Linked DNA regions of Homo sapiens: all the other regions are linked to region 3. The links come from fine-mapping of genetic effects on gene expression. A gene starts in region 3. Each other region holds a variant in brackets. All regions are shown on one strand. Distances are from middle to middle. Region 1 holds the start of TFIP11 (tuftelin interacting protein 11). Region 2 overlaps TFIP11 (tuftelin interacting protein 11). Region 3 holds the start of HPS4 (HPS4 biogenesis of lysosomal organelles complex 3 subunit 2).

Region 1 (4,000 bases), 31 kb before region 3:
TAATTATTTGTTAATGACAAATGAATAAATGAATGATGAAGGCTGTGGTTTCTCCCCTTACTGTGTTTTGCGGATATTTAATTTCCAGATAAACACCCCGAGCCTAAGGAACCTCATGTTCCAGCTTTCCATATAAGGATAGAGTCTTCACGAATTCTTGAAAGATAAGTAGGGTAGAAACCATCTGTAAGAAACATTTAGAGGGAAATCAAATTGCTAATCTCAGCTGATCTGGGTTCTCAATTCTGCCAAGTTAAGGACACCATATATATTTTTGGGACAAAATGCAAAATAAGAATAAGCCATGTGCAACTGTATAATGTCACTGTCCTAGAAAAAGTACATGTGCTAGTCTTTAAATATATCAGCTTTGAAATGCCACTTATGGATTGTTTCTATGGTACCAACCTATTTAAAGTTGTAACTAAGTGACGATATTTTTTTCCCGAAATCTTTTGTAGGCAATATGGAAAGTGTGCTGTATGGCATAGGCTGTAGAAATAAGAGGTTAGGAATGTGGACTCTGGGGTTATAACAAACTACCTTAGAAGGCTGAAGAATCAAAGAGATGATGTCTGCAGAGTTTGGCTCTGTGGCCCTGAACACACAGGAATCATGATGTGGGACCCCATGCATGGTTTTGCAAAGAAAGCACCTGCCTGGGAGTTTGAGCTCCTGGGTTTCAGGCCTGGCCCTGTCCTTAAACTCACTGTGTGGTGCTGGCACCTCCACTCTGCCAGGGGCTCCCCCACCGCCTCAGCTGCGAAAAGAGAGGTATAGACCCATGAGTGCTGGAGGGCCCTGCCAGACTCCTTCTGCCCAAGGAGCCTTGTTGCTTTGGCAACCCCTTCTGCGAAGGCCACATGTCTGAGCACCTCATTGGGAATGTAGAAATGAGTGTGGATGTTCCCAAATCTCAAAGCAATGTTTTTGTTTTTTTTTTTCCCCTCTAGGAAATGACAGGAGATCACGATAGATATGAGACCTTGAACCTAAAGCTCTGGTTGCCTTGTAAAACTTTTCCTTGTTTTTCAAAGGCTGGGCATTTGATCCCAGAAATCCTGAAAAACCATGGATTTTTGAGACTGAAAGGGGTATGACATTGGGTTTTTAAAAATGAAGGCTGGCGCAGTGGCTCACGCCTGTAATCCCAGCACTTTGGGAGGCCAAGGCAGGTGGATCACGAGGTCAGGAGTTCGAAACCAGCTTGGCCAACATGTTGAAACCCCATCTCTAATAAAAATACAAAAAGTAGCCAGGCGTGGTGGCGCACACCTGTAATCCCAGCTACTCAGGAGGCTGAGACAGGAGAATTGCTTGAACCCAGGAAGCATATGTTGCAGTGAGCTGAGATCGTGCCACTGCACTCCAGCCTGGGTGACACAGTGAGACTCTGTCTGGGGGAAAAAAAAATTAAAACAAATAAAAAAACAAAAATTAGCTGGGCGTGGCGGCGTAACGCCAGCTACTCGAGAGGCTGAGGCATGAGAATCACTACAGCTGCGCCTGTAATGACAGCTACTCGGGAGGCTGAGGCATGAGAATCACTTGAATCTGGGAGGTAGAGGTTGCAAATGAGCGAAGATTGTGCTGCTGCACTCTAGCCTGGGCGACAGAGTGAGACTCTGTCTCAATAAATAAATAAATAAATAAATAAGAATATAGCCACAATCCTTTAGAAAGCTCTTACCATGCCAGGAGCTTTACATGCACTAATTATCACTTTCTGTTTTTGTTTTTCTCTAAACAACTCTCTTAGATCAGTACTGTCACTATCCCCAATCTACAGATGGAAAAATTGAGGTGTAGAGAGGTGAAGCAACCTGCCCTCGGGCCCATACCTAAGAAGTAGCAAAGTCGAGATTTGGATCCTTGAAGTTTTTACTCCAGAGCTTTCATTTTAAGAAATTGCAAAAAAGTTATTAAGTACAGAGAGAAACATTTTCCCTGTAATAATTTGAAATTAAGGTGACCATTTGATGCCTTATCCCCTGCCAAATACATTGATTTACTTTCCAGCAAACAAGAACATCCTCTGATGTAACTTAACAGGCAACCATGAAAATCAGGAAATTAACACGGACACATCATTACCACGGCATTGTAGGCCCCATTTAAACTTTTCCAACTGTCCCT[G/A]TAACTTCCTTTCAAGCAAAAAGATCCAGTTCAGAATCATGTGTTGTGTTTAGTTGTCATGCCTCTTTGGTCCCCTCCAGTTTGGAACAGTTCCAGGGTCTATCTTTGATTTTCATGACCTTGGCACTTTCTAAGATTACAGTTTTGTATACAGCATGTCTCTTTACGTGGGTTTGTCTGATATATCCTCATGATTACATCCAGGTTATGGATCTTCAGCAGGAATATCACAGGGGTGATGTTGCAATCTTCTCAGGGCATCCTATCAAGTGCCACATAACTTCACTTTGTCCCATTCCTGACAATGCAGACTCTGATCACTAAATCAGAGCCTGCACTCTTAACTACTCCATGACAGTCCACAAAGGTCCCTTCTTCAGAAGCCACAAAGTGAGTTCCATTTGGTGAAGTAAATCCACTAGCATCAGTCCCTCATGATCAAAGTAATTGCAGCTCCATAAAATCTGCTGTAAAGCCATAAACATAGCTACAGAAAAGCCAAGCGTATGTATGCTTTTGGCTTTTGGGCTACAAACAGATGTAAATACATTCAGGCACAGACTAAAAACACTTTTCTCCTCTGTTTCCCTTACTCTGCTCCTGGCAGGGCTTGTAGTCTGTTAGACCCTCTCTCCCGGCCTTCAATGCTAAAACCACATTTTCCATTTCTTTCCTGAGTACATACTATGTGTCAGGCACAATGATTCTACATGTCACTAAGAATACAGAGATCATTAAGACACAGTCATCATTCCTAAGCAGCCCACATTTAACTGGGTACACAAAAATTGTTGTTTAATTCTTAACAACTACTTGATGGTAGACTTAAGTATTTGACTCCAAGTCCCGTGCTCTTTTTACATTCCAACAATTGCCTCTTGAATCTTTTCATCACATAGAGCAGAGAGAGAAAAATTAAGCAAAAATTAATAGCTAACACTTCTTCAGCACCTACTGTTACCAGGTACGGTTTTCATTGCCTACAGTTTTATCTTATTGAATCCTTAACCATTTTGCAGAAGAGAAAACAGGCTTAGATGTAATGACTTGCCCAAGGTCCACAGCTGCTAAATTGCACTCAAGGTTGGAACTCCAGAGCCTGTGGACACTTAAATGTCTACAAGGAGTCCTTGGGCTAGTGAGGGCTTCCCAGGGAGGGCCCATGACTGTTCTGCTCATTGTATCACATTGGCCTAGCACAGGTGAGGGGCACTTAGTATATTTTAATTAGATCAATGAATAAATTAATGAATTTACCAACCTGCTGGAAACGAAAAGAATGGAAACAGCTCCTGGAGAGAATACTTGGGAACTCCAGAGTTTGCCCATTCATTCCTTCATTCCCTCTTAAACTCCTGCATAAAGGCCACTGCCCTGTGCCCACGACGGTGCTTATACCGAGAGCGTCAAAGATACAGGAATCACAGTCTTGACCTTCATTATTCCCATTTGAATGCTGTGTCCCAGGCCCCTTATTGTCTCACAGTATTTACCACAACTACCGTATGGGCTAATCCTACATCTCTATTTTACAGATTTACAATCTCAGAGTGGTAAAGTCTCCTTAGGCCAAGGTGGCTCAGCGGATTCCACACCAGTCATCACAGGCTGAGCGTCACAGTACAAAGCAGGAGCGGCAGGGAGGCCGATTCCGCGGGGAAACCACTCCCCAGCTATTCTAGGCCTTGCAAATCCACCCCTCCTATCTAAGATCCCAGCCGGCCGCTCTGCAGCCATATCCGCCGTAGCGTCCCACGCTGCCCTGGCAGCCAGCAGGACATCCGCTGTCGACTAACGTCATTTCCGGCGCGCCGGCCACGGTGCTTCCGGGTTCTGGTGTAGGAGCGGCGTCTTCTCGCGCGGA
Region 2 (4,240 bases), 22 kb before region 3:
CTATGTTGGCCCAGCTGGTCTTGAACTCCTGGCCTCAAGCCTCCCAAAGTGCTGAGATTATGGGCATGAGCCGCTGTACCTGGCTCCAGGGTTTTTTATTGTAATTTTTTCTTTTTTAAACCACACAGTACAAATATATCAATTTTATTTTATACAAAAAAGACCTGAGGTTAATGGCTTAATGTAAGTACTTGAAGCAGTCAGAGTTTAAATCAATATATTTCATTTTATAGAGTTAATTTCTTATTTCTTAGGGGACTTTAGTGTAATTTTCTTTTCTTTTTTTTTTTTTTTTGGAGATAAGGTCTCACTCTTTTGCCCAGGCTGGGGTGCAGTGACATGATTATAGTTCACCGCAGCTTCAACTTCCTGGGCTCAAGCAATCCTCCCATCTCAGCTTCCCATGTAGTTAGGACCACAGGCTTGCACAACCATGCCTGGCTAATTTTTATTTATTTTTTTTTTATAGAGACGAAGTCTCACCATGTTGCCCTGGCTGGAAATTTTCACATTCAAATAAATTTAATGGCTAGGAGCTTTTTCTAAGTTTGATTAATATAATTGTTACATGCTTTACATTCATATAATCTTTCAATGGGTTTTATTTATGATTTTCCATCAAAATTTCTGCTCCTGTTGGATTTTTGTACTTGAAATAGTTTTCAAAACAATTGCTTTTTATGATAAATTAATTTTTTAAAATGTAGGAAAATTGTATTATCACATCATATTTTGAATTTGTAATCAACCCTACATTGATGTGATAACTCTTCAGCCGTAGAGGGATATGTCAGGTAAAATGTTAAATGTGACTACAGGAAGCCAAATCTGGGGTCCTTTGGATTTTTTGACACATTAAAAAATGTGTTACTTTTTTAAAAAACCTCCCATGAGATTCACTCTAAGGAGTCTTCAAGCACGTAGTTTCTGCAAAAGGATCGCTGCAGAGAAAAGAGTTCTTTACCGACCTGGTGGGGCTTTGTTTCTGTGCCTACAGGGCCCGTGACTACTCTGCGCCAGTCAACTTCATCAGCGCAGGGCTCAAGAAAGGGGCAGCGGAGGAGGCAGAGTTGGAAGATTCTGATGACGAAGAGAAACCTGTTAAGCAGGACGACTTTCCTAAGGATTTTGGACCAAGGAAGCTAAAAACGGTAGTCTCTATTGCAGGATTGTGACCCTAGGAATATCCTTCAAAGGTCATTGTGGCCCAAGCATTTTCTAGCCAGGGAGAAACTCATCTGGAATGAATTTCGTGAGTGTCTCCTTTTGGTGGCAGGTTTCTGTGAGTTGTGAAGTGTGTAGTGCAGTCTCTTCCTTCCTGACACGTTATCACACACATTTTTGGTTCATATGACACTTTTCATAGTGCTGTATAACTTAGGCCATTTTCCTGTTGGCCAAGCTTTCTTAGATTTTTCTTCATTTTGTTTTTCCATTAACTAAGCTTTGATTTTTCTTTTTTGCAGGGTGGCAATTTTAAGCCCAGCCAGAAAGGTTTTGCAGGAGGAACCAAATCTTTCATGGACTTCGGCAGCTGGGAAAGACACACAAAAGGAATTGGACAGAAGCTTCTTCAGAAGATGGGCTACGTCCCTGGACGGGGCCTCGGGAAGAATGCACAAGGTATTGCACCTTTGTCGTCTTGCATGATGGAGGAGGGCAGGCATAGGGAAGGAGAGGGGCGTTGGGAGAGGAGGTTTGCTTTTCCCTTTTAAAAGCACTTTATCTCTCCAGCCTGGTTTGCCAGCACAAGACATTTGCGTTCCTAAGCTACCTTGCTTTATCAAAGCTCAAGTTAAATAAGTAATTGTTTCAACAGCAAGGAAAGGGTTAGGGTCTAAAACAGGCTGCAAACAGGTTGAAAACAGGCTTTTTTTCTGGTCCTGACCAGTGCTTCTAAAAACAAAAATGAGGCTGGGTGTGGTGGCTCATACCTGTAATCCCAGCACTTTGGGAGGCCAAGGCGGGTGGTGGATCGCTTGAGGTCAGGAGTTCAAGACCAGCCTGATGAACATGGTGAAACCCCGTCTCTACTAAAAATACAAAAATCAGTTGGGTGTGGAGGCATGTGCCTGTAATCCCAGCTACTCAGGAGGCTGAGGCAGGAGAATCGCTTGAACCCAGGAAGTGGGGGTTGCAGTGAGCCGAGATCAC[T/GCCACTGCACT]CCAGCCTGGGCAACAGAGCGAGACTCCATCCCTGAATAAATAAATAAATAAATAAATAAATAAATAAATAAATAGAATAAATAAAAACAAAAATGAATTAGTTGCTAATATTTAAAAAACAGACAATTTCACCTAAAATTCTAGATTTTGCCTGGCAGTAGTTAGTTGAGGCAAGTGAGAACTGCTCCTGGGACGATGGACATGGCCTTCTCTTGGAGGCAGTCTCCATTACCCCCTGTTGTCTTCCACCCCAACCCACAGGAACTTTTCTTGGTCCCAGAGTCATTTGAGTTTGCCATCCCTACTCACAAGGGTTTTAATTTTGTGGAAATAACCCTATTTGTCCTTCAGGAATATCAGTAAAACATCGTGCATAGTTTTTGTAATAGCTAGAGCCATATGGCTATAAAACTGGCTGAGCAAATCCTGCATTGGTTACTTCCATCTTCCTCTAGTAGCCCAGTCTCCTCCTGTCTTCTCATGGCCAGCCCCATTGAGACACAGCCCCTGTCACACTCTTACCTTCTTGAGACCAAAGCCTCTCAAACCAAACAGTTGGATTCTTCCTACAGGAACATTTCCCCCTCTTCTTGAGCTATTTCCTATGCATGATTGCCAAGTAGATATAATCAAATGTATCCTACATATTCAAATTCCAGTCTCTAAATAATAATAATAACATTATTATTTTTTGAGACAGAATTTCACTCTTGTCACCCAGACTGGAGTGCAGTGGCACGATCTCAACTCATCTGCAACTTCCACCTCCTGGGTTCAAGTGATTCTCCTGCCTCAGCCTCCCGAGTAGCAGGGATTACAGGCACCCGCCACCACGCCCAGCTAATTTTTGTATTTTTGGTAGAGACAGGGTTTTACTGTGTTGGCCAGGCTGGTCTCGAACTCCTGACCTCAAGTGATCCATCCTCCTCGGCCTCCCAAAGTGCTGGGATTATAGGTGTGAGCCACTGCGCCTGGCCTCTAAATAATTATTAAAGTGAAATCCAGGTTATGTGTTGAAAACATTAGGTACATGAAAAATACATGAACTTGAGTAAAGATACACTGAATGAGAATGAGGGGACAGTTTTTTTGCTTTTTTTTGATACAAAGTCTCACTCTGTTACCTAGGGTAGAGTGCAATGGCATGGCATGATCATAGCTCACTGCAGCCTCAACCTCCTGGGCTCAACCCTGCCAAGTAGCTGGGACCACAGGCACACTCTGCTGTGCCTGGCTAATTTTTTCTTTTTTTGTAGATGGGGTCTTACTATGTTGCCCAGGCTGGTTCAAGACCTTGGCCTCCCAAAGTGCTAGGATTACAAGCATAGCCACCACATCTGGCCCAGGGATAGCTCTTATTTAAGACTTCAGTGGAACTAAATGGAAGGGGGGCAGGGATGGAAAATTTGGAGTCAGGGGAACGTCTTCATTGAAATGTTGTGGTCCTATTCGTAAACTCTTTTATGAGAAAAACAACGTTTATTTCCAGGGCTTAAACTTGTTATAAAAAAGTTAAACACAGGAGATAGGAACTCCTAAGTAAAATATGTGAGGAGTCTTATATTAAATTGCAGCTTCACTTCAGTCAGAATCAGTATAGTATTGGAATTATTGCATTTTCCCTAATAGAGGCTCCCAAAGAAGTGAAGCATAGAATTTAGTGTGCTGGAGTTCTCAGTTATAAATGTAGTGTTCTGTTTTCTTCCTGTCCACTAAACAATCCAAGTGGAAATGGAAATCTATTTGGGATATAAATAAACTAGTCAGCAGACTGTTCTGTGGTAGCATAAATGCTCATAAGTTTCAAATCACAAGGGACAAGAGTAGTGTTCTGAGGGCAGAGAATAGCTCTCCTTCCTGAGTAGCATGTTATTTTGTGGAAGGAGCAAGAAACTGTCATTTCACTGAGTGGCTGATTCACATACATGAATTGCTGTGATCGTAAGACTCTCTTTTTTTTTTGCTGAAATTCCTCAGGTATCATTAACCCAATTGAAGCCAAGCAGAGAAAGGGAAAAGGTGCTGTGGGGGCTTATGGATCCGAGCGCACCACTCAGTCCATGCAAGACTTCCCTGTGGTTGACT
Region 3 (4,268 bases):
ATGAGGTGCCCTGCAATGCAGGGCCCACCCTTACCAAGTGATAGGAGGGGGATATATGTTGAATATGTCCAGAGCCAGAGCACATACTGCTGGGGCTCAGAGACTGCAGGAGAGAGTATGCTGGAGGAGGTCCTTGATTCCCAGAGAGAGATCTGGGTCTATTCTCAGTCTACAACAGAGCCTAGCATAGAATTGCAGCTCAATAAATGGTTGTTAAGTGCTCAGAATTAGCCTTTCTGAGCTTTAGTTTCCTCATCTCTAAAATGGGGATAAAAATCATTCCCAACACGGAGGAGTTTAGAGGCATAAAATGGGTTAACATTCTTAGCCCAGTGTCTGGCACATAGCAGGTACTCAACAAATGGTATTTGTTATTATAAATAGTTTTAAGGGGAAAGTAAAGAGACAAAACCAAGTGTCTGGGCTTTCTTTATTCAAGTCAACTGGTTTTACAGACCCAGAGCAAAAGAAAGTCAACAGTGAATTAAAATGAACTGGATTTAAACTGACAAGCCACAGCCAGAGACAGTGATTATGGGGTTCAGAAAGGAGTACAGAGAATTGAAAGTCGGCCCAGAGGCTGCTGCACGTTTCTCACAGAGGGTAGAGAGTTCTGATGTACACAGGAATGCTTTATGAACTGGTAAATGCGTACACAGATATGCGTGTAAAATGCTGGCTCAATCTCTACTCAGAGCGATGGTGATTGCACCACACTTGGGTGTTGGGAGAAGCAAGGAGCTCCTGGGGAATACTGAAGCAGTTGAGGAGATCGTGACAGTGTCAAGGGATATGAAAAATGCCTTGAGTTTTCCAAACCCCTAGGCACATTCACTCTCACTGGCATCCTCTGAGAGCTTAAAAATAATCGCAGGTGCTTTTTATTCAGGCTGAGCCAAATGGTCAGCAACTTTCTCTTCAGAGGTAAACTCTGGGACATTACTGCCTCTTGACCCTAATTCTAGGGGAGAGGAGCACACAAAATTAATCTAATTTCTCCCCTTGTGACGGCCCTTCGGATGCTGATCTTAAGTGCTAACTAAAGCTGTTATTTATTGAGCCTAAACAAAACTGCGAATAAAGATAATAATACTAAATAACAATAATAAGTAACATTTATTGAGTGTTTCCTCTGTATTAGGCACTCTCTATGTACTTTCTAAGGTACAGAGCAAGGTATGTGAGAATCTGGGCTGGGATAAGCAACAAGCATAATGGAAAGCTGGAAGCACTGGTTTTTGTCACAAAGACCTGGGTTTGAAATCTGGTTCCACACATTTTCTTTGTCTCTTTGAGAATCAGTGAGCTACCAGGGTCCTAGTATGCCTGCAATGTTTAACATAAAGTGTGTAGAATGATTAAGCTAATGTCAGGCACATAGCAGCTGCCTGATGATAGCAGTCACGTGTTCATGTTGCTTCCCTCGTGTCACCACCACCAATAATATCAACATCGGCATAATATTAATAGCAAACACTGGCACAGTGCTTACCACGTGCCAGAAAATGGTTTCCGTTTACTAATTCATTGAATCCTCAAAACAAACCTACGTATGTACTATTTTCATCCCCATCTCACAGATGAGAAAACTGAGGCACAGAGATTATAAATTGTCCAAGGTCACGCAGCTGTAACCGTAATAAAAGGAAAGACGACCTTTAACTGAGCGCTTACTATAATCCACATCTTTAATGAGCTCGTTACCTACGTTAACTCTTCACAATAACTCCTTAAAGGGTGTGCATTATATCTCCACTCTACAGATGGGGAGACTGTGGCTCAGAATTGCCCATGGGCGCAAAGATTCCATCAGGGCCGAGCCTGCACTCACTCAGCCTCCCAGATGCGACGAAGCACGACTCCGCTGTCAGACTCGAACTCCGCCTCGGGGCCCCGGGGCGCCGCCTCTCTCCCCCGGGGCGCCGCCTCTCTCCCCCGGGGCGCCGCCTCCCTCCGCCGCGGCCGTCGAGCCGCGGAGCGCCTCTTCCGCGGAGCCGCCGCCTGCCAGGATTCCAGCGCCGCAGCTGCGGCCGCAGCCATTGGTCTCTGACGTCAGCGGCGTGCGGCGCACTCGGCACGTCATCGCCGCGCGCCGGCTTGCCAGGAGCTGGAGGGGGAGGTAGGCGGGGCGGCGCGTGACCTAAGGCCTCTCTGCCGCGCGCGCAGGTACGGGGCAGAAGTCGCAGGTACCCAGCTGCTGCCCACATTTCTGGTCCAGAGTCCCGAACCCCGAGCACTGGGATGCCTGGCTACTCCGGTGGGTGGGCGGCGCTCGGAGCGCGGGGATACCGAGGGGCGGGCCCCCAGCTTAGAGCGTGACCCGACCCCGCCTAATCCTTAGGCGTTCGCCCACCATTTCCCAGTCCCGTAGAGCTGGGGCCAGACACCGCACAGCCCTAGTGCTGTTACCAGTCGCTGCCTGCGCCCCGGGGGCTGCGCCCAGCAGCTTCCTGGCCCTTTTCCAGCCATTAGCGTCCGTTTTCCAGCCCTGCTGCCCCACTGAGGCCCCTTCCCACAGCAGTATCACCAGCCCCAGCCCCGCGTTGTTACTATTACTTCCCAGGCTACCAGATCCTTTTCTGCTCATGTTCCGACGTCTCTTCCTACTCCAGGGCCATTATTGGTCTCTTCTGGACCTTTCAGAGATAAGAGAGGACCTCGGTAGTGTAGGGCCCAGTCCTCTGGGAACAAGGGATGGGGAGTTTTAGGCTGCTGTCCTTGGTTCCAGTAACAGAGATACCCCCTCCACAGGCACCCAAATATGCTCCATAGAATACAATGAGTGTGGTCCTGTGGAGGCCCAATCCAAAATATCTAGAGCTGAGAAGAGATAGAGATTTTACAGGCCGTCAAATATTCAATGGGGGTCGTCTCTAGAGACTTTTAACAAACTGTATTGTGTACCCACAGATTGCAGAATGGTGAGCAAACATTTGAGACCATGTTGCTAAAGCATTAAGCTTGGAGAAAGTGACAGTAAGAATTAGACAATAGTTTTGAAGTGACCAAGAGGTTGTCACATGGAAGAATTAGACCTTGTTTTGTGTTTTCCTGCAGAGCGTTATCCAGACTAGCGAGTGGGAGGCAGATGTAAAATCTGGAACGCAGATTTTAGTTTGTTGGAAGGAGAAATGTAACATAGTGAACCACGCATCTCTGGAGGGTGTAAAGCAGAGACAGCCAAGGTAATTTTTGGAAAAGAGTGCAGGAGAGTAGAGTAAACGATGCCAGGGTTCCTTCCGACTCTGAAATTCCGTGATACACTGAGCTGTCTTTCTCTTGTGGAAGTTTGAAAGCCATTTGATAAAGTTCTCTTCATTTTTTAGAAATTTGCCCTGCTCTGGAATTCTGCATGTTCAGGTTACTTTTGGACTGTCAAGATGACAGTTCCTTAATTTGGGTTCCATTATTACCACAGCAACTGGTTTATTTGTATAGCTGTCCACACCTAGAGCATTTTCACCCTGTCATTTGATTTTATCTTCCGTGAAGCTTGTGGTGTGTTTCCCTTAACTGTTCGAGAAACTAAAGCCCTTACTCTGAAGTCTCTGCAAGCCTCCCTCTTTGATTTTGAAGCATGATTGTCACCCTCACAGAAAGCTCTTTTGAAATATACCATTCGTTTAATCCTGCTGGGTCACATGCTCTCTCACGAGTTGCTGAAATATCTATTCCTTGTGTTTATTTCAGAGCCAAGGCACTGATGTTTGAACTGGAAACTTCAAAACGTTTAATAAGAGTCTTCAGGATGGGTTTGAACTAGACAAGCTAGAAATTTCTTTAGAACACCAGCTCTAGCATGCATCTCCCACTTTTGGCTTTCCTGGAGAGGAGCTTGAAGAGGTGGTTCTGCAGACAGCCACAGTGATACTTAGGAAACCAGAGGAATGGATTTGACTTTTCTGCTAGGATTCTCTGTTATAGTTTCTCCCTGAGTTGTAAGAGGCATGGAAATATACATGAAACTGAAGAACCTGCAAGGAAGGGAAGTGGAACTTTCCATGCTGAGTGAAAACTAACCAAGTGGCAGTTGTGACTGAAAACACTGAAACCTACCACGTCCAGATTCACTGGATTGGGGGATAGAGGAACGGTCACAGCTAGGGAGAAAGAAGTGATACCGGAAAAGAAAACCTAAATGAAGAGAATGAGGATGACTGCACAGTAGATGGCCACCTCTACCTCCACAGAGGCAAAGTCAGCCTCGTGGTGAGTAACAAGGCCTGCCATGGCATAGCTTTTGCTGGGCTGTTGGTTAGAGTTTTGGG

Evidence for each region. PIP is the estimated chance that this variant, and not a neighbour inherited with it, causes the effect. A credible set is the group of variants that fine-mapping cannot tell apart.
Region 1: its variant is the best candidate, but not a certain one, in a credible set for the expression of HPS4 in whole blood (INTERVAL, PIP 0.89).
Region 2: its variant is the best candidate, but not a certain one, in a credible set for the expression of HPS4 in fibroblasts (GTEx, PIP 0.78).

Annotation. Positions count from the first base shown.
Region 1 is chr22:26,512,432-26,516,431 of GRCh38, reverse strand. TFIP11 (tuftelin interacting protein 11) reads left to right here and starts at 3,959. Exons shown (of 15, transcript NM_012143.4): 1 at 3,959-4,000. TFIP11-DT (TFIP11 divergent transcript) reads right to left here and starts at 3,900. Exons shown (of 2, transcript NR_144529.1): 1 at 3,398-3,900; 2 at 1,864-3,020. RefSeq lists enhancers at 3,137-3,674, 3,897-4,000. The variant G/A (reference allele first, on the strand shown) is at 2,137.
Region 2 is chr22:26,503,686-26,507,925 of GRCh38, reverse strand. It overlaps TFIP11 (tuftelin interacting protein 11), which reads left to right. Exons shown (of 15, transcript NM_012143.4): 5 at 998-1,151; 6 at 1,467-1,623; 7 at 4,133-4,240. Among named protein-coding and RNA genes, the nearest start is that of TFIP11, 6.7 kb to the left of the region's middle. RefSeq lists an enhancer at 647-1,846. The variant T/GCCACTGCACT (reference allele first, on the strand shown) is at 2,155.
Region 3 is chr22:26,481,663-26,485,930 of GRCh38, reverse strand. HPS4 (HPS4 biogenesis of lysosomal organelles complex 3 subunit 2) reads left to right here and starts at 2,148. Exons shown (of 14, transcript NM_022081.6): 1 at 2,148-2,257; 2 at 3,691-4,209. The coding sequence starts at 4,169. It overlaps SRRD (SRR1 domain containing), which reads right to left and starts at 2,054. Exons shown (of 7, transcript NM_001013694.3): 1 at 1,832-2,054. The coding sequence starts at 2,040. RefSeq lists a silencer at 1,871-1,960 and an enhancer at 1,981-2,100.